Linked DNA regions of Homo sapiens: region 1 is linked to region 2. The links come from fine-mapping of genetic effects on gene expression. A gene starts in region 2. The other region holds a variant in brackets. All regions are shown on one strand. Distances are between the middles of the regions.

Evidence for each region.
Region 1: its variant is fine-mapped to the expression of OVOL2 in unexposed skin (GTEx, PIP above 0.99).

What each region holds. Positions count from the first base shown.
Region 1 is chr20:17,212,363-17,225,086 of GRCh38, reverse strand. It overlaps LOC105372545 (a long non-coding RNA gene), which reads left to right and starts at 6,831. Exons shown (of 3, transcript XR_937290.2): 1 at 6,831-6,988; 2 at 7,087-7,176; 3 at 8,154-8,304. The variant T/C (reference allele first, on the strand shown) is at 5,511.
Region 2 is chr20:18,052,072-18,064,795 of GRCh38, reverse strand. It overlaps OVOL2 (ovo like zinc finger 2), which reads left to right and starts at 6,880. Exons shown (of 4, transcript NM_021220.4): 1 at 6,880-7,261; 2 at 7,919-8,139. The coding sequence starts at 7,162. RefSeq lists a silencer at 8,197-8,286 and enhancers at 7,688-8,475, 10,803-11,303.

The DNA of each region.
Region 1 (12,724 bases), 840 kb after region 2:
ACTGCGCCTGGCCACTTCATTTCTTAAATAGTTTCCAAATATGAAATGCTGGTAAATGTTGAATCTCATATAGCTACATTTTAAATAACTAAAACTGTGTAAAATTGGCCAGAAATGATATAAAACCTGAATGACTAATTAAAATAAGTCCTCTTTAGTGGTTTACATAAAATACAGCTCATCATAATATTGTCAGGACAGAATAGCAAATGGAAAGATAATTTTTTTGGTTATTCAAATACTAAATTTTCAATACACAACAATGTAGTAAGCAAGTGGAAGAGGAAATGTATTTATCCCTTGGATATCTATTGATACATTGTTATTTGAAATGCTAATACACACCCATGTGTGCACACAAATTGCTCTTTTAGACAACTATTTCTCAAACTCCTTTTTCCAATAACAATAGTCAAGGTGGACAGTAGAGAGAATGGCAGCAGCACATTTTGAGGATAGACCTAGAAGCCTGTTGCCAGGGACCCTATTGCAGGCTCTGCTAGTACTAGGTATGTATACCACTTGGCTGTGGGCCAACATATTGCACCTCTCAAAGTCTCTATCTTTCTATCTGTGAAAAGAGACTGTTGGATTAGATACCTCAGAGCCAAAGTCTATAATTTCAAAAGAGTTGTGAAAACATACGCTGTAATGTAGGAAGCATCATCAATAGTTTGAGAAATGCTGAGGACCACAATACTATTTAATAACATATTGTGGCCAACAGGCATACTTATTTTTGTGTAACCTCCCCCAAATGGTCTCATATTTATCAGTTTTGTGTACTTGAAAAAATAATAACTGACACAAACAGATTGACAGCACGAGATATAAAAATCACCAATACCTGGAGCTTCTTTTCATTTATTTACTTTTGTATCTGTAACAATGACGTCGGGTGTTTGGTTCTGGCTCAGATGTGCCACAGGCCCCCAGAGTCTCTTTGAAGATGTTGTCCTGCAAAACAAGACTAGAACTCTCCCATTTTATGGCTTAATACTAGAAATCAAGAGACCTTGGGTGATTTTTTAAAAAACCAAAACCACCTGAGGCATGATTGGGATACTCACATTTAGATGTACTTCTAAAAGGAGAACTTTGGATTCATAGAGCATCATGCCAAGGAAAACCTACCACTGGGGGTACAGAGCAAGCCAGAAGCAGCCGTAGGAGAGTCCCCCAAACCTTTGAATATTCTTTGGACTACTGGAGAAAGATCTAATTTTTCTGTTGATTTCTCTTCAATTGTGTGGGATGTGTAATCTGGAGAGAAATAGGGTATATACCACTGAAAATCACAATTTAAAATACAGCCTTGTTAAAAATCAGGTTGGGCTTTGCCATTTTTGCTGCATTCATTGCAAACATTTTAAATGCAGTAATGGTACATTAATCAGGTAGGAACAATTCTCTACTGTCATATTGTACTGTTGTATTAGTTTGTTTTCACATTGCTGATAAAGACATACGTGAGACTGGGCAATTTACAACAGAAAGAGGTTTATTGGACTTACAGTTCCGCATGGTTAGGTAGGCTTCACAATCATGGCAGAAAGCAAGGAGCATCAAGTCAGGTCTTACATGGATGGCAGCAGGCAAAAAAAGAGAGCTTGTGCAGGAAAACTCCCCCTTATAATAACCATCAGATCTCATGAGACGTATTCATTATCACGAGAACAGTATGGGGAAACTGCCCTCATGATTCAATTACCTCCCACTTGGTCCCTCCTACAACATGTGGGAATTATGGGAGTACAATTCAAGATGAGATTTGGGTGGGGACACAGAGCCAAACCATATTGACTGTCAACCCTTTCAATGGATTATTCCTAAAGACCCTGCCCTGTCTGTTCCCTCCATTCCAGCCCATATGCAGGCTTTCTGAAATATCGTTACCACTTTACAGATCTTTGCCCAATTTTGAACTCAGCATTGATCAAGTCTTTTTTTTTCCACCAGACTATTCTTATTTTCCAAGAACTCACCTCATTTTCCTCTAGTATTTACATATACTCTCACATTTGCTATAACTAAAAATTCAGATACTTGGGAAATTTTAGTTTCTCAGTATGCACCCACTTCTAAATCACTGTGATTCAGTTGGTCCTACCTCCAATTCCTATAGCTTTCACCAACTTGTATCTTTTCCTTAAATAACCTATCTCTGTTTTTCCTTCAGTTGAAAATTCTCAGCTGATTTTTATTATTTAAGCCATCTTAAATTAATATAGTGAAGAGAATTTATATGGCTTCAAGTGTTTATTATTATCAAAGTATTGAATCTACAGTGCTTTGGGTTATATTCCTTTTGTAATTTCATCAAAGTCATCCAATTTACTCAGACCAATCATCTCTTCACAAACAAAAGCTACTTCTCACTTCCTTATTTTCCAGGACAGTGAAAATTTGCTTCTTTTGCTAATTTAGGTTCTATTATTTTGATAGGATTTGAAGCAGCTAAACAATGAGGACGAGCGGCCCTTTTAATCTTCTTTTGAAAATTAGGAACACATTGCTATTCACTATCTTTAGATTCCTTTTCAGGTCTACGGGACTACAGAATAATGTTTGCTCACTTAGAAAAGTAATTAGTTATTTCTCAGGGTTTATTGGAACATTGCTTATTGTCTGCGGAAAGTGATTATCTATTCATGAATTCTCTACCTTGTGTTATTTCTCTTTCCTTTTTCATGATCTTTTAAAAACCATAGTAAATCTTTCTCAATGTACTTTTTAAATAATTATGGAAATTATCTTCAACAAGGAGTTTTTTTGTGTTTCTCAAACTACTTATAACTCAGAAATAATTCAGAGAGAACAAAGTATATGCCTTGTTAGCAAATATAAACAGGAATTTTAAAAGATAAAAATTTTATGTGTAAAATAAAATTTAATACATTCAAACGTGTACACTAATTTTATAAGGTAAACTCTGCCCATTATAATGAAACATAAGATTCTAGGAAACTACTTACTTTGATCTGAATGCTTTGGATAATTATACACTATTTAGTATCAGTTTGAACGACCTACCCCGAGTAGATAAATTGATGTATAATGTTACTTAACATGCTAGAGGAACAGTTATAAATTTATGGCTGTGCTCTCAGATATTTTCCACTCTTTTGAAAATATTCTATACTTTCATAGATGTTTTGGCAAAACGTGGCATTGTCTATTTTTAGGGAATTTCACTATATGATATTTACTTTATTGTCTTATGATACTGGAGTGAACCAAAAAGTACACCCTTACAAACAGATATTTCTAGAATTAGTCACTCAATCCTAGTTTGTAGATTTATTTTCTCTTTTAAAATCCTACAATCCAGATGTTATAATTAATATAGGACCTAGTTAGATTATTTTAAAGTTCTAATAACACATTCACTATGCATTAATTTCTTTTTAATTTTTCAAAACAGCTTTGTTAAGGTATAGTTAACATATAGTAAACTGTGAAGTTTGACTAGTTTTGCAATTTAACTAGTTTTGATATATGTATGCACCTGTGAAATAATCCCTGCAGTCGGATAATGAATATATCCATTTTCTCCAAAAGATTGCTCATGCCATTTTCCTATGGCTCCCTCCCACACTTCTCCCACCCCTTCACACCACCCATCCTCAGTCTGCCACTGCTTTGCTTTATACCACTATAGATGAGGTTGCATATTTCCTGAATGTTATATAAAGGGAATAACATAATGTGTACTTGTTTTTGGTCTAGATTCTGTCACTCAGCACAGTTATTTTGAAATTTTCCATGGTGTAATGTGTAACAATATTTTATTCCTTTTTATTGTTGGTTAGTATTCATCGCATGACCGATAGCACTAACCGTTTGTCTGTCCACTAACCTGTTGATGGACATAAAACATACACATAGACCAATGGAACAGAATACAGAACCCAGAAATAAATTCATGCATTTATAGCCAAATCATTTTTTATGAAGGTGCCAAGAACACACGTTGGGGAAACGATAGTTTCTTCAATAAACGATGCTGGGAAAACTGGATATCCACATACAGAAGAATGAAACTAGTCTCCAATCTCTCAGCATCTAAAAAAATCAACTCTACATGTATTAAAGATGTAATTGTAAGACCTGAAACTACTAGAAGAAAATATAGGTGGAATGCATCTTGAAATTGGGCTAGACAAGAAGTTTTTAAATAAAAACTCAGAAGCACAGGCAACAAAAGCAAAAACAGACAAAAAAATTACATTGAACTAAAAAGCTTCTGCCCAGCAAAAGAAACAATAGAGTGAAGAAACAACCTACAGAATGGGAGAAAATATTTTCAAACTATGTGTCTGACAAAGGGTTAATATTCTGAATATATAAGGAACTCAACTCAATAGCAAAAAATCAAATAAACTAATTTAAAAATGGACAAAAGGACTGAACAGACATTTCTCAAAAGAAGACATATATATGGCCAACAGATGTATGAAAAACTGCTCAACAACATGAACATCAGAGAAATGCAAATTAAAACCATGACAAAATACCACCTTATCCCAGTGAGAATGGTAAATGTCAAAAAGACAAAAAATAACAATTGCTAGCAAGGATGTAGAGAAACGAATACTCATATACATTGTTGGTGGGAATGTAAATTAGTACAGCTATTATGGAAAACAATGTGGACGTTCCCCAAAATATTAAAAATAAAATGTCCCTGTGATCCACAAATCCAATTATTGGTTATATGTTTTCAAAGAAAATGAAACTAGTATGTTGAGGAGACATCTGAACATCCATGTTTATTGCAGTGTTATTCCCTGTACATTAATTTATGCCAGAAGTTACATACCAGTGACATCCAGTTCACAGGTATGTTTTATAGGAAATGTGGTGTCAATAAAAATAGTCACAATCCTTTAAAAATTATTATTTCCCATAAAAATTCAGAGATGTGACTTCTTTTGGAATAACCAAAGATTTGGCAACTTGGTCACAATTAGCTAGTTAGTAGCTGTTGTTCTCCCCACCCCATGTAACAAGGCCTGATATGCTCAGTTCACAAGAATCCTCATCCCGCCTCCTGACTCATGTGTTTTACTTTTCTCACCCTAAAGTCATCTGAGTTTATGACTTCTGGTTTAAACAATCTACAGTGTCTCAGTTCATTTTGCTATAGAGATTTTTTTTTCACCCTAAAGTCATCTGAGTTTATGACTTCTGGTTTAAACAATCTACAGTGTCTCAGTTCATTTTGCTATAGAGATTTTTTTTTCACCCTAAAGTCATCTGAGTTTATGACTTCTGGTTTAAACGATCTACAGGGTCTCAGCTCATTTTGCTATAGCGATTTTTTTCAGTTATTGTTATTATTTTATTTTAACTTTTATTTCAGGTTCGGGGTACATGTGAAAGTTTGTTGTATAGGTAAACTAGTGTCATGGAGGTTTGCTGTACAGATTATTTCATCACCAAAGTATTAAACCTAGTATCCAATAGTTCTTTTTTCTTCTAAAAATAATGTATTTAATAGAACACAT[T/C]CAAAAAGATGAAAATAGAAGTATATTCTCTAAATAATTATTAGCATAGATGAAAAAATAAACTCAGACTTTCAGAATACAGACTTGCAAGAAATGGAAGCAGTCTTGGCCAAAGCTACTCTTTGCCTACCTCTGAGGACAAGGAATAGACAAATTGGCATTACCTCCCTTCTCTGGTAGTGAAAACCTTTGCAAACGTCCAATATCATTAGTTTTTATGTTCTGTATTTTGCTATAAGCTAGTCCTTAGAGGAAACAGCATTATCAATGCAAGGACAGTGAGATGTTAAAGTAAAGTAGGAATTTATCTATAAATGCCCAAGAAAGGTTAGAGTGGCATTATGGGAAGATCGTGAGGCTGGAAGTAAAGATTCTTTTGTTTGACGTCGGCTCTAGGTCATTTTAGTCATGTGACCTGAAGGAAGCCATTTTACCCTCTTGGTCTCAACGTAAATTGGGATGGGGATTATTTGCTTAGACTGTGTCTGAGATCAAATTAAGGGCTGACATTCAATGATAATATTTTAGATCAAGGACCCACTTCTCTTGTGCATCTCCTATCTCTTAAGGAATACTGGCTGCATGAGTTATACAATAGCACATGAAACATGGAAGTGCATTTATACAAAGTATAGCAGTCACATAGTGCCCCTGTAGTGCTGTGGAAAAAATCATCTTAACTGTAATAGCTTACAATAAGTATTTTATTCTCACATTACAGTTTTCTGTGGTTTGGCTGATCTAGAATGGGATTGGCTGAGTAGTTTTACTTCATGCTACAGGTTGGCTCAGCTTAGGTTCCAGGCTGAGTTTGGTTTTTGTCTGTTCCACACATATTTTTTTCTGTAGCCCAGGCTAAAGTGGTAGCAGCTACCTACCCAAGACGTGCTCTTATCATGGCTTAATACTGGAGCTTAAAATCCAAGCCAAGCCATGCAAAAACAATAAGGCTTTTATTGCATCATGTTTACTAATGTATTGGCCAAAGCAAATCACATGGCCAAGCACAACACTGTTTATAGGGAGGGTGAAGGAAGAGAATATTTGCTGAACAGTAATCTAAACTACATACCAAGAAAGGTCCGCCATCTACAGATATTTTTATTAAAAAGTGTATTTTCACAAGTTAGTATAATTTAAACAATTGGCTCAGGAACCATTTTAAAGGGTTGATTTTTTAAGATTAATATCTGTAATACACGTGGGGAGTCTTGTTCTAAAATGTTGAGAAAAAAACTTTTAATAATCTCATTTGTGCGTGGAAAAATGAACCACCCTCCCCCTAGAGTACTGGAGGATTAGAGTGGGCGTGCTTTTGGATATTTTCTTAAGAATGGCTAGGTAAGCATTGCTGGGGGCTGAATCTGACACAAATGGCAATGTTCAAGGTGATGACAACAGAAGGAAGGCTTATCTTTTTCAAAATTGGATCAGCTCAGACTCAACTATAATACAAACATATGAAGCCCTGAGTATAGGTAACAGAATTTAGTTATGTTATCCTTAGATTTTTGGACACATTCCAGATTGTAGTTTCCTGCTTGCATTAATCAGAATTCTTTCTTTTGGTTATAAGGGATAGAACTACAACTCTAACTGGCTTTAGCAATGAAGAAAATTTCTGGTTTCACATCTTTCAAGGGTCCAGAGGTGGCTACAGATTCAGGTATGGCTGGATGCAGAGCTTTCACCATCTTCACTTGTACAGTCCATTACCCTCTTTGATGGCTTAACCCCAAAGGAAAGTTTCTTTTCCCCTGTAATGTTTATAAAATTTTGGAATAGCAGTTCATTAATTTGGCTTGTAGCATGTGACCAATTCTTTCCCAATTGGGTTCAAGTATTGAAATCAGCTACCTGGCCAGGCCTGTGTGTTGTGCCTTCTGGAGCTGACATGGGATGTTAGACTAAGCTAAACCACGTGGACTAAGAAAGGAGAAGTTTTTATTATACAGAGGAAAATATGGGGGCTCTTTTCCAGAGAAAGGTGCGAGGATGTTGGACAGATAAAAACAACAGATGTCTATTACAATATCTGTTCATCAAAATGAACAATGCGTTAGGGTGAGGGACAATTTATGAAGCAGGAGTATATTGAAAGGTGTTAACTAGAAAGCTAAAATGTTGTAAACGGTACGGTGCTATACTAACGTATCCTCTAAGTGCCAGGTGGAGAGAGTGACATTTGATGAATTGGTTATTTATTTGTAGATGTTAAGAAGGACGTTTCATCCATTTGGGCCCAACAGCAATGTTAACTATTAGCCAATAGCATCAACATGTCACTAATTTGTATCTGGTGACTTGTTGATGATGGGTTGACTCAGCTTACTAGAGTATGGGGGTGACATAGCCAAATAATGGGTTCAGCCTTCATGAGGGAAGTCAGTCATTTTACCATGTAGCTGTATATAAATGCCAGGATTAAAATGGTGATTAAAAGTAAATATTTAAAAAGATTCATATCTGTGCCAGAATGTGTCTTCATATCTTTTTTCTACTGTCAGGGAAAGGAGGGCCCTTGTTCTTAATTCCATGAGATGGCAAAATCGTCTAAACTTTCATCATTGCCTACAGTACTTTATGTATAATTACATTGTTTCTTCAAGGTGCCCTTATTATTTCTCCTCTCATTTTTCCCAGGAGACTTGCACCAGGAGGAACTGGCAAATTTCCTTGGCAAGAACAGATGAATAAATAAGAAGCATGAGCTTGCGACTTTTAGCTGGGGTGATTCGTCAAAAACCACAGCACTGTGGCTGTTTTCAGATTTTAAGGGTTATGTTCAACCTCAATCAAGGGGAGTTTTGAAAGCTGTTATAAATCATCAAATAAATTGAGGAAAAAAATTTGGTAGAACATGATGTTACTTTTTCACGTATGGCTGAATATATTCACCTGAAGGTTTTTCCAAGCTATGCTAGTGTTAGGCAATGACGATTACCTATTCATGTTTGTCTAATGTTTTGAGTGGTGAGTGGCATTGAGTGAGGAATCTCATGATGAATAATTGGCTTTAATCCTCAAGAGAGGACAAAGTATCTGAGCAAGATACCCCTGAAGATCAGTCACTTGCTATAAGTACCAAGTGGTCAATATGGATAAATTGGGTTCTACAATATAGATCATATTGGGTTTATAATGCCTCTGCAATTTTTTCAACATTATTTTGTAGATCCAACAATGCATACTATATGTGTCTGGTTATTTCTGTTTTCCCTTCAGATCTCCTCTCCATGGTTCTCCACTGTGTGCTGTGCCTGGAGATTGGCTTTTATGGACCACATCAATGAGATTCATTGCTTTATGGCCTCCCACTGGATTCAGCCAACAGGAAGTGCATTTAAAAACTTGGAGAGTTGGGTGGGAGAGTCATCTCAGGATTTTCATTTTCCAGGCTCCCTTCCTGCTGGCTCATTACATACTAACTTCATTCCTGTCCCAAATGCTGTAGCTCCCATCAGGGAGCCCTCTCCAGATTCCATTAACCTTGCCATTCCCTTGTCTCTTTAGGCCTAGCAGGATAATGACTCCAATCTGTTGCTAGTCCCATGGACTTCACTATGCTTCATTTGCTTTATTCTTCCATACATTTGTAAGTAGTCCCTCAACAGACTCTCCTCAATTACTCCATCTGTGTAAACCAACTCTTTCATACTGACATCCTGACTGACATATCACCTATGTAAAATATGACACATGCTATACAAGGGATACATTTACATTCAAATTATGACATATTTAAGTATAGCATTTGTAATGAATATAACAAAAACAGCCTTCTGAGAGGCTGGCTGGGTGAACACAGTAGCCAACATTAACAAAACAAAACAAAACAGAAGAACACAACTTAGAAGAACAAAAATGTGACATATATTTGGGCAAAAGAAATAATACAAAGGAAAGTCATATTAAGAGGCAAGGAAAAAATTGCAAAATCCATTAGCAATTTTGGGAAAAGTCCTCAGGGCCAAACAACTAGAATTCAAATTGTGAACAACCAGGAAATCCTAATATCTAAGGGCTAGGAAATTACAAAAAAGGAAAAGGTGGAAGAGGAGGAGGAGGAGAACAAGGAGGAGGAGGAAGAGGAGAAGGACTTACTGAAGGAGAAAAATATGAAGGCTTAGGAAGGCAGGATAGAAGTTATAGGACCCTTCTCCATGGCAGCACTCAGAACCACCATCTGGTACAGTAGTATGGAGGATCTGTCCATGGTTTTGGCCAATTCACAGAGATGAACCTTCCTGCCTCTGCAGACCAGGTGGGCTGAAAGAATTCTTAGTGCCTAACTGATGTGTTTTCAGACTTCCCAGGATATTACTTTGTAGTAAAGACATCTTTCAGAAGAGCAAATTGTACCTGGCTAAAAGAAGAAGGAGAGGTAGATCTCATTTGTCTCCCAGCTATTACGTGTTTGTACATGATTGATACTAACATTACTACCACCAGCAATTGATCTGAGAATATTGCTATGCTAAAAACAATTTACCATGAAGACAGGCACAAATGTGATGACTCTGAGAAGCAATTTCAAAATAAGAGGCCAGGATGAAAATAAATCTGAAGTTCACAAGATGGAAATACTCCAAATGTCTGTGCATAAATTTTGGGCTAAGTTTCTTCTAATTCTTTTATTACTTTATCCTGGGCAAAAGGTGATTATTTTATGTAATGATATGTTCCAAGTATGAGAAAAAATTATTAAAATGAATAGGATGAGAATAAATTAGCTGATACAACAAAGAATTTTTTTTTACGTGTGGAAGAAATCACAACTTAAAAATAAGGTTTTACTCTGTGATTATAAGAACACTAACCAAAGAAATAGGTCTTTAAAAATGTCTTATTTTTTATTTTCATGGATTCAGGGGTACATGTGCAAGTTCGTTACATGAATGTATTGAATAGTGGTGGAATTTGGGCTGTTTTTTTCTTTAAGCTATCTTCAATCCAATCATTCTTAACAGAAATAAATATGTAGTTTCTCATAAAATTATTAAATGTATAATCAATAAGAAAAATCTATCCATCTGGCAGTTTCACAGCTTTGATATTAAATAACTTAAATTTAAAGTGTAAGATTTAATACTAATGGGAGCATTGCAGTGGTTTTTGAAATCTTTTCCCTGCATTGGAATGAATGGTGTAAAGATAGGAAAGGGAAACTGCAATAAATTGCCAACATTGAGGAGAATGGTAATCTAATGAGACCACCAAGCAGAGGCAGGAAGTGTCTTTCCAGCTTCACAATCAAGTTATTAAAAAGCACAGTACAGACTTACAATCACATTTCCAACAATCATCACTTGGAAATGCAAGCACTTGAAATTCACCTTGTGTTCTACCTCTTGTTTTTCATATTCTGATTTTGGAAAAGTCTCTGGGTTCGATGACAAGAATATTAAAGGATCTTGGGACACAGATTGTCGCCCTTATCAAAATGGTGATAGATGAACTGCAAAACCTTTTGGTACCCAGATTTTTATCAAAAATAATACATGAGCTATCTGGTCCACAGGGTTATTTTGGGTTTTAAATAAGCATGCATGAATATATGTATAAATAAAAAGGACCCAGAGATCAGAAGATTTTATTAAAGTCCTTGGGACCCGAATTGAGTTGTTCCAAACCCTAACTGGGCTTGGCCTGGAGAAATCTTAATCCTCCCCATGGCATCTGAAAGTTTCTGGAGATTACTCAGTTTTACTTGCCTTTATTGCTGGGCTTTCTGTGTGCTGATTGGCTAGTCTGGAAAGAATTTCATTAACTGAGACGTGGAACTCAAGGCCCCCTCAAATTTCCAGTCCCAAACCTACATATCAAACCCATAAAGATACTCAGGAGTACTTTTGCTCTGGAGTTAGTAGGAGGCACTCTTTAGGGAAAGCAGGTGAGTTAGTTATAGAAAGTAAAAATACTTTTCCAGTTACATTGGTTTTAATGAGCATCAATAAATAGACCACACAACAATGTAACTATGGAAATTTCCTTAAAGTGGTCCCAAAATAAATACTTGTAATACACAGGCCACATTCAAATAATGTGGTATAAATATTAATTGGTATAGTTTAGTGAAATGTTAGAGGGAAAAAACATGGAAGACTAGAGATAGAATTATTCCGTCTCTGTGATGGTTTGTTCATATAGTAGAGGTGAACTAGAACAAACCTGTGATGTAGCCATCCTTAAATATTCATCAGATATTTTAAAGCAAAAGTAGGTTCAAAGCACCTGGCACAGGCTTTGGACTTAACATATATGTTGCTTTTAGCCAACAGATGCCCCTCCCCTACCAGAAGTTTGACTTATTAGATACTTCTTTACTCATAAACAAAATAAAGCAAAATGCATCTGACAGATTTTATTTTGAAAATTGGTCTGTCTTTAGGAGTTCTTGGAATCTTTGCTAAGGGTCTATTTTGATGATTTTGGTCATCATTTTTGGATAATGGTGCTATGGAGGATGCAAAACAAAAACTGTGACTCTTTTAACCTGCTTCAGACCAGATCATTGGTAGTTTGAACCCATTAGTAGAAAAAGAGGCTATATTTTCACAATCAGGAAAAAATTCTAGGCTGAGCGTAGTGGCTCATGGCTGTAATCCTAGTACTTTGGGAGGCCAAAGTGGGCAGATCATGAGGTCAGGAGTTCGAGACCAGCCTGACCAACATGGTGAAACCCTGTCTCTACTAAAAATACAAAAATTAGCTGGGCGTGGTGGCACACGCCTATAATCCCAGCTACTCAGGAGGCTGAGGCAGGAGAATCGTTTGAACATGGGAGGCGGAGGTTGCAGTGAGCCAGGATTGTGCCATTACACTTCAGCCTGGGTGACAAAGCAAGACTCCATCTCAAAAAAAAAAAAAAAAAAAAAAAAATTCTACCTGTTCACCAGAGCCTAATACTTGAACAGACCTTAAGGTACAAAATTTTAGTTAGATAGGAGGAATAAGTTCAGGAGATCTATTGTACAATATGGTGACTATAATTAATCATGTTGTATCCTTCTTTTAAACTTTTAAGTTCAGGGGTACATGTGCAGGTTTGTTATATAGGCAAACTCCTGTCATGGGGGTTCGTTGTACAAATTATTTGATCACCTAGGTATTAAGCCTAATACTCATTAGTTATGTTTCCTGATCCTCTCCCTCCTCTCACCCTCCAACCTCCAGTGGGTCCCAGTGTGTGTAGTTCCCCTCTGTGTCATGTG
Region 2 (12,724 bases):
TTAGTAGAGACGGGGGTTTCACCATGTTGGCCAGGATGGTCTCGATCTCCTGACCTCATGATCTGCCCGCCTTGGCCTCCCAAAGTGCTGGGATTACAGGCATGAGCCACCGTGCCCAGCCTCAACCTTTTTCTTTTCTTTTTTAAGTTCACAGTTCTTCAAGGTGGAAACCCTTTTTCTTTTGTGGTTTATTTTTTGGGTCTTATTTAAGAAATTCTTTCTTATCCTGTGGTCATAAACATATTCCTCTACATTGTCTATATACATATACATGTATATGTATTCACACACATCTAAATGTTTAATCCACCAGAAACTGATATGTGTGTTATTCAGTTTCCTTTATTTTTCCCAAACGGATAAGCACTTGTTCCAATTCCATGTATTGAATATGACATCTTTCCCTGCTGCACTGCATACCCTCTCTCATAAATCAATGCACACATATGTGTGGGGCTGTTTCCAGGCTCTCTCTCAGGTACCAGTGGTCCCTCTGTGAATGAAAGCCACATCATTTTAATTACTATTGATATCTGATTGATCAAGCCTACACACCTTGTCCTTCAGGAGTGTTTCGACTCTTCTTTCACATAAATTTTGAAAGAAATTTATCATGTCCCACAAAAAGACTGTCAAGTATTTTTAAAAATTGTATTATATCTATAGATGAATTTGGAGATTTTTGGCCTCTTTGATTCTGAATCTTCCAATCCATTAATATAGTAAAACTTTCCATTGATTAGTGTCTTCTTTAATGTCTTCCAATAAAGTTTTTTGTTGTTGTTGTTTGTTTGTTTTTTAGACAGGGTCTTCTTTTTTGTGGCCCAGGCTGGAGTGCAGTGGTGCCATATAGGATCACTGCAACCGCCACGTCCCGGGCTCAGGTGATCCTCCCACCTCAGCCTCCCGAGTCTCTGGGACTACAGGTGCACACCGCCATGCCCGGCTACCAATAAAGTTTTCTAATTTTATATACAAAGAGCTTGCACAATATTTTCAAAAAATCAATTGCAAGGGACTTTGTATTTTTGTTGTGTTTTAAATCATTTTTCATTAGACTTTTTATTTTTCTGACAGTTGCTGGCATGTAGAAATTTAATTGACACTGAAACCTTACACACTCAGATTCTTTTTTTTTTTCTGAGACCGAGTCTCGCTCTATCGCCAGACTGGAGTGCAGTGGTGCGATCTCGGCTCACTGCAACCTCCACCTCCTGGGTTCGAGTGATTCTCCTGCCTCAGCCTCCCGAGTAGCTGGGACTACAGGCATGCGCCACCATGCCCAGCTAATTTTTGTATTTTTTAGTAGAGACGGGGTTTCACCGTGTTGGCCTGGATGGTCTCAATCTCTTGACCTTGTGATTGCCCACCTTGGCCTCCCAAAGTGCTGGAATTACAGGCATGAGCCACTGTGCCCAGCCCACACTCAGATTTTCTACACTGCAATCTTGCTAAAGTCTCTTATTAATTCTAATAATTTATCTATAGATTCTTTTGGGTTTTCCGTAGACAGTGATGCTGACTACAAACAATAGTAGTTTTGTTGTTTTCCCTTATAATCCTTATACTCTTATTTCTTCTTTTTTGCCTTGCTGTACCTGCAAGGAAGCAATCTAATGTGAGTGGGGTGGTGAGAGCAGGCACCCTTGGCTTGTACTTGGGTGCTTTTTCCACTAGTGAGTTCAGTGGGTAAAAATATATCATTTTCCTAATACTGTACTATACTTCAATTAAAAGTTTAGGTGGGAGGCGCGGTGGCTCACGCTTGTAATCCCAGCACTTTGGGAGGCCGAGGTGGGCGGATCATCTAAGGTAGGGAGTTCAAGATCAGCCTGACCAACATGGAGAAACCCCGTCTTTACTAAAAATACAAAAAATTAGCCGGGCATGGTGGTGCATGCCTGTAATTCCAGCTACTCGGGAGGCTGAGGCAGGAGAATCGCTTGAAATTGGGTGGCGGAGGTTGCAGTGAGCCGAGATCGTGCCATTGTACTCCAGCCTGGGGAACAAGAGCGAAACTCTGTCTAAAAAAAAAAAAAGTTTAAATAAAGTTTCCTTAGGAATATTTTCTCAACAACATCTTACCCTCTCCTTATTGCTGTGTGCTCCAGGGATGCCACTGAGCAGGTTTGTACCTGCCTCCTTTCAACCTGAATATATATTACTGGAGAAAAGAAGTCTTAAGTGAGGGTGCAGATGGCTGCTTTCAAGAATTTGAAGAGCTACCAGGGGGAGGGAGTACAGGGGGAGTCTCAGCAGCCCTGGATGACAGAATAAAAGGGGAGATGGAAGGGCAGGAAAGCAGATTTCCACAAGCAGAAAGAAAAGCTTTCTAGCATCATTGTTGTCTAACCAGAGAATAGGTTGCTTTTTGAGACAGTGAGCTTCCCAACACTAGAAGTATTCAAGCAGGGCTAGATACATACCTACCAAGGATGCTGTACAGACCCCTCACCCCCAATATTGGGCGGGGTATGGACCACATTATGTCTCCTGTCTCTTCCAACTTCAGTCTTGAGATTTGTAAAGAATTGGATTCATTTCTTCTTTTTTTAAAATTGAAATTGTTTTTATTAACATCTTGTGTGTGTTTTTAAGTTCTGAGTATTCAACTTTGACTATGACCAAAATGTCTATATTTAAAGAGGTAACAAGGTATTTAACACATTGTGTAATATGAGCCAGATAAATTGCTTTCATACTGAGGGCTCCGTCCAAATAAGGCAGAGGCCACGATCCCAGGTGGAAGGAATGGAAATGAATCTATTTCAAGGCCAGTAGCTACACCCAGAATTCACTCAACTCTACCAAACGTACCTGCACTATCTCAGCAACACATCTCTACAGTTTGACAAGACAATCAAAAGTATATTTTGTACTTAATGTAATAAGAGGCTCAGATATAAATGTCTACTTTTATATATTTTTAACTTATGCAGATCGTTTGTTATTTAATAAATAAGTTAAACTGACTTTGTTGCAAATGAGATATGAGGATGTGCATATGAAGAATAATTGGGCTGGGAACAGTGACTCACACCTGTAATCCCAGCACTTCGGGACGCTGAGGCGGGTGGATCATAAGGTAGGAGTTCGAGACCAGCCTGGCCAACATGGTGAAACCCCATCTCTACTAAAAATACAAAAATTAGCCAGGTGTGGTGTCAGGCGCCTGTAATCCCATCTACTCAGGAGGCTGAGGCAGGAGAATCACTTGAATCCAGGAGGCAGAGGTTGCAGTGAGCTGAGATCTCGCCATTGCACTCCAGCCTGGGCAACACAGCGAGACTTTTTTTAGACAGAGTCTTGCTCCGTCACCCAGGCTGGGGTGTAGTGGGGCAATCTTGGCTCACTGCAACCTCCACTTCCTAGGTATAAGTGATTCTTCTGCCTCAGCCTCCCGAGTAGCTGGGATTACAGGTGTGCACCACCATGCCCAGCAAATTTTTGTATTTTTAGTAGAGATGGGGTTTCACCATGTTGGCCAGGCTGGTCTGGAACTCCTGACCTCAGGTGATCTGCCTGCCTTGGCCTCCCAAAGTGCCAGGATTACAGACGTGAGCCACAGCGCCCAGCAGAACTTGAATGGTACTTAGTTTCTCATAGCCTATTTTCCCTCCTTCTTAAAAAATGGGACAAATAATATTGCCAAATGAATGTAAATAAAGGTATTTAGGAAATAATGTGAAAAAGCTTTAAAGCATTATTTACTTTTTCTTTTCTTTTTTAATTTTAGATTCGGGGGTACATGTGCAGGTTTGTTACATGGGTAAATTGCATGATGCTGAAGTGTGGGCTTCCAATGATCCTATCTCCCAAATAGTGAACACAGGCCGGTTGTGGTGGCTCATGTCTATAATCCCAACACTTTGGGAGGGCGAGGGGGGCGGATCACTTGAGCTCGGGAGTTCGAGGCCAGCCTGGCTAACATGGTGAAACCCTGTCTCTACCAAAAATACAAAAATTAGCCAGGTGTGGTGGTGCATGCCCATAGTCCTGGCTACTTGGGAGACTGAGGCACGGGAATTGCTTGAGCCCAGGAGGCAGATGTTGCAGTGAGCTGAGATCTCACCATTGCACTCCAGCCTGGGGACAGAGGGAAACTCTGTCTCAAAAATAAAATGAAAATAAAAACAAATAGTGAACATAGTACCTGATAGGTAGTTTCTCAAGGCTTTCCCCCTCTCTCCCTCCCCACTTTTGAAATCCCCTGTGTTAACTGTTCCCATCTTTGAATCTGTGTGTACCCAATGTTTAGCTCCCACTTCTAATTGAGAACCTACAGTATTAGATTTTCTGTTTCTGAGTTAATTTGCCCAGATAATGGCCTCCAGTTGCATCCATGTTGCTGCAAATATGTGATTTCATTCTTTTTTGTGGCAGCATAGTATTCCATGGTGTATATGTACCATATTTTCTTTATTGAGTCCACCATCGATGGGCACCTGGGTTGATACTATGTCTTTCCTACTGTGAATAGTGCTGCAATAAACACACAAGTGTTTATTGGTAAAGCGATTTGTTTTCCTTTGGTTGTATATCCAGTAATTGGATTGGTGGGTCCAGTGGTAATTCTATTCTTAGTTCTTTGAGAAATCTCCAAACTGCTTTCCACAGGGGCTGAATTAATTTGCATTCTCACCAACAGTGTATAAGCATATAATAGTAGTGCAAGAAAAGGAGAATTGGGTTCACTTCTTATCCTGCTTTCTGGGATACTCTATCAACTCCTCTCATAATACTTAGAAAACCGACCTTACAATGGAGGCAAGTCAACCAAGATAAAAGCTGGTTCTTTGTACATGTTAATAATTTTGATAGACCCCTATCACATCTGATCAAGAAAAAAGAGAGAAATAAAACACATTAAATTCCTTTCTCCTCAGGAAGCACCCAGCAAATATAGTAGGTGTGCATCCAACGACCATAGAATAAAAAGGTTGTTATCCTGTTAAGTCTTCATCCCCAAACCTATAAAGGTTGCATTGCTTTGGAGGTTTCTAGCCTTATACCTCATCATCCTATAATCTTTTAAAATAATACAAATAGGCAAAGTAGTCAAGACACTCACTGGTTTGAAATCCAGTGAAAGGAAAAAAAAGCTTTGTTAATGGAGTTGACAGCCTCTTCTGTATAATTGGAAGTTCTGAACGAAGTGAAGTTTTGAAGATTTTTAAAGACTGGGAATAATTCTGTAACTTCATAGTTGTACTTCATTTTTACTCTTCCATTCACCCAAGCTCCTTCTTTCTAGCAAATCCCGTTTGTTGGTGGATAAAAATACATCTGCAGAGTCTCCCGGAAGCTGCCCCATCAGCCTCATAGACAAGAAGCCTTGTTTTCCTGCACCGCTACAGAAATGTCTTCCTCCTCCTCCTCCTCCTCCTCCTCCTCCTCCTCCGGCTCACCGGGATCAAAGTCTTTTTCGTTCTTAGCTGGTTTTTCTTAGAGAAAAGCTGGAGTTCAGAGTTCAGTCCAGAGAGGGTGACTCCTTGAGGGCAGACCTAGAGGCGCCGCGCACCGGTCCCGCCCGCAGCCCCGGCAGAGCTGCGCCCCGGCTCCCTGCGCCGCGCGAGTCCGCCAGTAGCGCCGAGAAATCCGTTACCAGGCGGTTGTGTCCCCAAGGGCCATTCAGGGCGGAAGGGAACAGGGAAAACCGCTGTGTTGATTCCCGGGCCCTGTAGGCTGGGAGCGCGGAGGGTCAGGTTACAGACAGGTGAGGCTGGCTGTTGGGTGAGCCTTGGGCTCCAGGGCATCCCTGACCAGACGCGCCCCCGCAGCACCCGGCAGCTGGCACACGTCTGACGACCTCCTGGAGGAGGGCGACCGCAGCGACACAAGAGGCTGTGCCGGTTGTCCTGGGCGCACCCGAACAAGGCCTTGGGAAGGGCAGCGCGCCCCGCAACGTGAGCACAACTGCTTTACAAACTTGGCATATTTTACCAACTCCCCCTCCTTCTCTCCCTCTCCCCTCCAGGCATAAAGGTTGATAGGAACAAACAGATATAATAATAAATGCAAAGCTTTCCTACCTCCCCGGTAGGGGCGGCTAGAAGATGTAGCCAATGTTCACTATGCTAGCTTCCTGGAAAGGTATTTCCCAGTCTCAGAATTTGGGGATCGGGTGGTTAGGAGAGGCAACGGTGGGAGTGGGCGAGGATTGGGGGCTTGTTTTGAAGCTGCATTTGCATAATATGCTCCTGGCTTTTGTTTCTATTGTGTGTTTACTTGGGGTGAGGGGGCTCTCGGGGGGTGCAACGTCTTGTGAGGAGAAGCTGCTTTGGCGGGGCAAGGCTTGTTTTTCTTAGATTGTATGATACTAGTCAGAAAAATAACGTGGTCTAAAGATGCCGAATTTTTAAATTTATTTTTACTGCTTATGGGGGGGGGGTGTTGTAGCTGATGGAAAGCTTAAGCCCCTAAGCCCCCACCCCCCATTATTAATAATCAGAATCCTTGGAAGTCTCCCGCCGCCTCCCCCTTCTGACCGCCCAGATTTCATCAAGCCCCAGGAAGGCTCCACAAGGTCCAGGGGAACTGAGCCATTTTCTGGCTCGTCGAAGACAAATCCACCGGGCGGGGGAGGGGGGCAACTCGTGGGAGGCCCCAACTCACCGGAGGGGTGCCCTGGGAGGCGAACCTGGGGTTTACCTCGAAGAGCTCGCCTCGAGGTGCAGGTGATGGGGGAATGGGGCGGGGGTTGATTAAAAAATGTTCTTCCTTTCTTAAAAAGAGGAGGGGGAAGAACAGACTTTAAATTCTTTTGCAAACATTCATGCCTAAGGAAGGGCTGGAACAGGCAGCCCCGGCCGCCGGAACCGGTCGGACAGGTAGCGAGCTTGTTGACACCGTTATGTTGCAGGGCGCATGCTCAGTCCCAAGTTTCCTGGTGCCTTTTCTATTCCACCTTATGAAACTTTTTCCCCGGCGTGGTCTCACTCGCGATTTAAGGCATAGGTGTCGCCGAGCCGGGAGGCTGGGAGTCGCCAGGCGTGCGGGGGAGAGGCCTGGGCCGCGCCGCGGCGGGGGGTGGAGGAAGAGGGCAGGCGAGGCGGGAAGGTGGGCTCTGGCCGCCGGGAGCCGGGGACGGAGCCGCCGCCGTTGCCCCTAGCGGGGAGCAGCCGGGAGGAGGGGGCCGCAGTCGGGAGAGGGGACCCCACCATGCCCAAAGTCTTCCTGGTGAAGAGGAGGAGCCTGGGGGTCTCGGTCCGCAGCTGGGATGAGCTCCCGGATGAGAAAAGGGCAGACACCTACATCCCAGGTGAGCGCGCGCGGGGGCCGGGCCTGGGCGCTGGGCTCCCGGGGTGGGGGAAGGGGTGGCGGGTCTTCTCTGCTCATCGGCAGGGGCGGGCTCCCCACCTCATCCCCCTCTTCCGGGGGGCACGCGGGGGTCTTCTAGGCGGGTTAGGGCAGGCAATGAGGGACTGGGATGCCCCAGACTCTAGGCGCCCCCTTCCCCGTAGTGGGAGCCTCTAATTGCCCGGCGGCGGGACCGTTGGCTGCAGCGCGGGCCAAGGTGGCCCAGGAAAGGGATTGAAAGCCAGCAGAGGCTACCCCCAATCTCACGTCCTCATGGGGGTGCACAAAGGCTCGCCAACCCTTCTGGGGCTAGCTGGGGAGAGGTCAGATCCGCCTCCCCCGCCCTGAGAGGAAACTTGGCGCGCGGGGTCCTCCGCCGCTCGTGGCCGCCCGGTTCCTCGTGGGCGCCTTGGCTGGGACCGGAAAGAGGCTCCGAGCACCCCAAGCTAGCTCTGTGGGCCGATTCGGGGCTTACTGGCCTCCCCCGCGACGTTGCCCACTTGGCGAGGTGCCCAGGTCCGGGGCGGGGCGGCGGCAGCACCGCCCGCAGGTCAAACTGCCGCGGGCGTGCGGGTTGACGCCGAGTGTGTGTGTCGGGGCGCGGCCCCTCCCTCCACAGTGGGCCTAGGCCGCCTGCTCCACGACCCCCCCGAGGACTGCCGCAGCGACGGCGGCAGCAGCAGCGGCAGCGGCAGCAGCAGCGCGGGGGAGCCTGGAGGAGCAGAGAGCAGCTCGTCCCCGCACGCCCCCGAGAGCGAAACCCCCGAGCCCGGCGACGCCGAGGGCCCCGATGGACACCTGGCGACCAAGCAGCGCCCGGTCGCCAGATCGAAAATCAAGGTACTGTGTCGACTCTGCCCCCGCCGCCACCTGCACCACGCCCTGGCGTCGGGCTCCCGAGGCCGGCGCCCCTCCCTGCCGCGCCCGCCTGCGCAACCCGGCACCCGCGCCCCGAGCGCGCCCGCCGCGCCGCTCCTGCACCTGCCCCTGGGCGGCGGCCAGGGCGCCTCGGCGCGTCCTCCCGCCCGCAGGGTAGCTGCTGCGCAGGGGCGGCCGGTTCCCGGAGTGGGCTCCGTCCTCCCGGTGGCCCCGCCTGATGCCGAGTGCTGCCTCTGGAACTGCCGAAAAGGCACAGGCATCACTGCCTTCCGCCAGCAGCCCGTTCTGTGCGCTAGGCCTGTAGAATAACCAAGGCCGTCGGAGTTCCTGAGGTTGGAAAGGAAGCCTCAGCGCTCTCAGAAATTCCACCCTCTGGGACGCAGTTCCTGGCGCCGCGATTCTGAGAGTTCACCCCCCATGCTTATGTTCTGGACCTGGGCGGCAGCTTGACACATAGTGGGCCTCTCCCAACATGAACCGGTTCCCAGTGTCTGTCAGACAGGAGGCTTGTGCACGGCACTTTAGATCTGTCATCTTTCCAATCTTGAATTAAATTGATGGGTAAAAGGGTTCAACTACAGATTTCTCGAGCGCCCCTACCCCAGTGGATTGGAGTGTTTCCTCCCATCTATGGTCGCGCCTCGGGGCCCCCTCGAACATTCTGGACGCCCACCTGCGCTTTCGGGCAGAACTTCCATGATGGTCTGCTCAAAGGTATCCGCTACCCACCAAGGTTTAGGAATCCCATTCCACTGACTCAGCCAGCTGGAGCTAGGAGGTGGTGGTTTATGATCACTTGGCCCCTCTTTCTAGCCTGGTGGGCCGCAGTGCTACACTGTGCACCCCCTAGACCCCCGGTGCAGGTGGTAATTCCAGGGCTCTCCGGTGCCCTCCTGCCACCCAGACCGGGAGTAGAGGGCGGTGGGGAGGGAGAGCCTGGGCTTTGCTGTGGATTGAGAAAGGACCCCTCATTTTCCTGGGAGAGGTCCCCTATGCACATTGCGTATTCCCAGGGTTTGACTCCGGGGTGGGCTGAGGCGCATTTGGTTTTGAACTGAGGTTTGAGGCTTCAGCTGGGATCCAAAGGAAAGACCTCTTTAAAGAAGAAGCTGCCGAAACCGTGCGGGCCGGCAGCTTAGCGGTAAGTGTGAGGGTGAGGTTCAAAGTCAGCTGGCCTGAGGCTCTTCCGGGCCAGGTGGGGTTAAGTGGGAGGGAAAAATTTGCCTGAGGCTGGTAGCTCTGCCCTTCGGGAGATTCTACAAAGTGCCCCACTTGCATATTTATCACCAGGCTGGAAGGACAATTGCAACGTTGTTTTGGGAGCCTCTGCAGCTAGTTTGCCCCTCTGTCCCCCAATTGCCCAGATTCCCCTGGAGAGAAAGTGACAGATTCTCATCCAGTCTCTTAACAAATATTTTAGGCAAACTCTTCTGCCTCAGGCACACAGGGCCGTTGGAATCCTGGATTAAAGGAAGACGTAAACCAATCTTATTTCCTAGATTAGTTGCCTGTGTGCTGGGGGAAGGGGGGCGGGAGGCACAGTTCACTCCTGAACCGTTAAGAGTCTTCTTTCCATAGTTTCCAGGGGAATTTTTATTTACTGGGGATGTTTAGGTTCCCTCTTTCTGCCTCTACCCCCAAAAAGGAAACATTTTGGTGTTAATATGCTCCAAGCCTCCAGAATTATTATCAGCCATGGCATTGGCAGTTTTCAAATGACTGACCAAATTGCCTGTGACTTAGCACGTTGTATAATTATAAAGTTCTTTCCAAGGCATGCTGAACTCACAATTTCTCTAAGAATTAGTTTCTTTTCTTTTCTTTTCTTTTCTTTCTTTTTTTTTTTTTTTTGAGATGGAGTTTCGCTGTTGTTGCCCAGGCTGGAGTGCAATGGCTGGATCTTAGCTGAGTGCAATGGCTGGATCTTAGCTCACTGCAACCTCTGCCTCCCGGGTTCAAGTGATTCTCCTGCCTCAGCCTTCCGAGCAGCTGGGATTACAGGCATACGCCACCATCGCCGGCTAATTTTGTAATTTTAGTAGAGACAGGGTTTCTCCATGTTGGTCAGCCTGGTCTTGAACTCCCGACCTCAGGTGATCCGCCTGCCTCAGCCTCCCAAAGTGCTGGGATTACAGGCGTGAGCCACCGCATCCAGCCAAGAATTAGTTTCTTAGGCAGTGGGCTCCCAGGACCACAAGAAGGGCAGGTTTGAGCTATTGCCTGGCACAGAGAAGCAACACTCTGCCCGTCTAACACCTGGGGTGTGCAAGGCAGCAGGAGGTAAAAATGCTCCCACCCTGGTGTTCCTTCCAGAATCATCTGGCAGTAGCGGTTAATCATATAAGCTCTGGCTTTGTCACTTCTTAGCTGTGGACCTTGAGCAAGTGGCTCACCCCTCTGAGCCTCGGTTTCCTTATCTGTAAGATGATAATGATACCTACTTGATAGCATCGTGAGGATAAATGAGTGGAGGGTAGAACATGGTATGTGCCCAATAACCATAGATAGTATTCAGGTTAATAGGGAGACACAAACATTATTAACTCTGCTGCAGGACAGTGAATGTGAAACCAGAATTCCAAACAAAGACGTGACCGATTTGAGTGGGGAAAGTGTCCTGATGTGGATTTGAAGGCTGGGGAGAAGGGAGGCGGGTGGGCCTGAGGGCAGTGTGGGCTGAGTCCCGCAGCTGGAGCATAGAAAGGATGAAGCTCTGGTGGCTGAAGATAGGAAACAGGGCTTGCTGGGGTCAGGGAGAGAGTTGGCGGTAAAGAGCTGGAAATGTAACCAGGACAGGGTGAGATGGTGAAGGGGCCAAGCCAAGAAATATGGGTGCTCCTGCTGGGCAGAGGAGAAGCTCTGGATGATGTAAGAAGGAAAACCTCAATCGGGTTCCTCTTTTTTTTTTTTTTTTTTGAGACAGAGTCTCTCTCTGTCGCCTGGAGCTGGAGTACAGTTGCGCAATCTCAGCTCACTGCAAACTCTGCCTCCCAGGTTCAAGTGATTCTCCTGCCTCAGCCTCCCAAGTAGCTGGGATTACAGGCACCTACCACAAAGCCTGGCTGATTTTTGTATTTTTAATAGAGACGAAGTTTCGCCATGTTGTCCAGGCTGGTCTTGAACTCCTGACCTCAGGTGATCTGCCCACCTTGGCCTCCCAAAGTGCTGGGATTACAGGTGTGAGCCACCGCGCCCTGCCATTTGGGTCCCTCTTAACGGCTGTGTTCATGGATCATTATCTCTTCTGAGCCTCAGTTCCTTGATCTGTAAAGTGGAGGACTCAAAGAATCAGCCTCCTAGAAGAGTTGCATAGATTAAATGAGATAGTGGGTGTAAAGTGTTTAGCTTTCTGTGCATGTGTAAACTGCCCAAGAGGAAGTTAGCTGACAGTGACATACAGCAAGTTTTAATGCCCAACATTTTGTTGGCTGTAAGGACATGGGATTCACTAACTTGATCGTGTTGATGGGTGGATCTGGAAAAGGAGTCCGAGGTGCAGATTAGGAAATGTGGCTGGCCCTTCCCAGCCTACCTGCCTTTTGACGGTGTGCCTCAGGGCAGATTGTGAAATTGTCTCTTTACTACTGAGAATTCTGTAATTTGCCAAACAAATAAGGGTGAGAAGATGATGTACATTCCAGAGAGTGTGCATGGCAGGTCCCTTTTGTGCTGGATCCATCTGCAGGTCTTCAGCTGCGGGGTAGAGAAACCCAGGAAATACTAATCACCATTGTCCTTTGGAGGCTTATTAGAAAGTAAGTAACTCTGAAGTTGGCTGATAGTATTCATACGTGATTCTCTGGCTGGTAGGACCCAGGTCCAAGTATGGAGTACCAAGTGAATTTGTCCTCTCACCCTTTCCTATTCTGTTCTTTCTTTTTGTCCTCTCCCATGGGTTCTTCAAAATAAATTAAGTTTAGATTCTTTCAAAAGTATGCTTGGCCTTTTACCCGGCTCTCTATCGAGTCTTGTAGTGGTGCAGATGTGTGTCTACGGAGTAGTCCCCATACCCCCATCACTTTGTATTATTTACAATCTCAAAGGCATAGTCATACGTATCTGCCACCCAGCCCCAACAACCATTAACCCATGGCCAGTCCTGCCCAGCCACACTCCCACCCCTTGCCCCATGCATGATTCTGAAGCAAATCTAGGACATCATACCATTTCAACCATAAATAGTTCAGAATGTGCGTTTAGTGGATAAAGACCAAAATTCATGATCACACCCACATTACCAATTGTGTTCACATTACTAATTGTCTCATAAATTAATACTTTTCCCCTCCAGTTTGCTTAATCAGGTCCACATAATGTCCACACATTGTAATTGATTGGCATGTCTTTTGAGCCTCTTTTAATTTCATACATTTTCCCTCCATCAAGTTAATTGTTGAAGAAATGGGTGATTTGTTTTGTAGAGTCCCCAACAGTCTGGATTTTGCTGAGCGCATCACCATGTGCCTAATGTTTCTCAGTCCCCTAGGTTTTCTCTAAACGGATAGTTGGATCTGCAGCTGCAGCATCCAGTATCACATGTGACTAT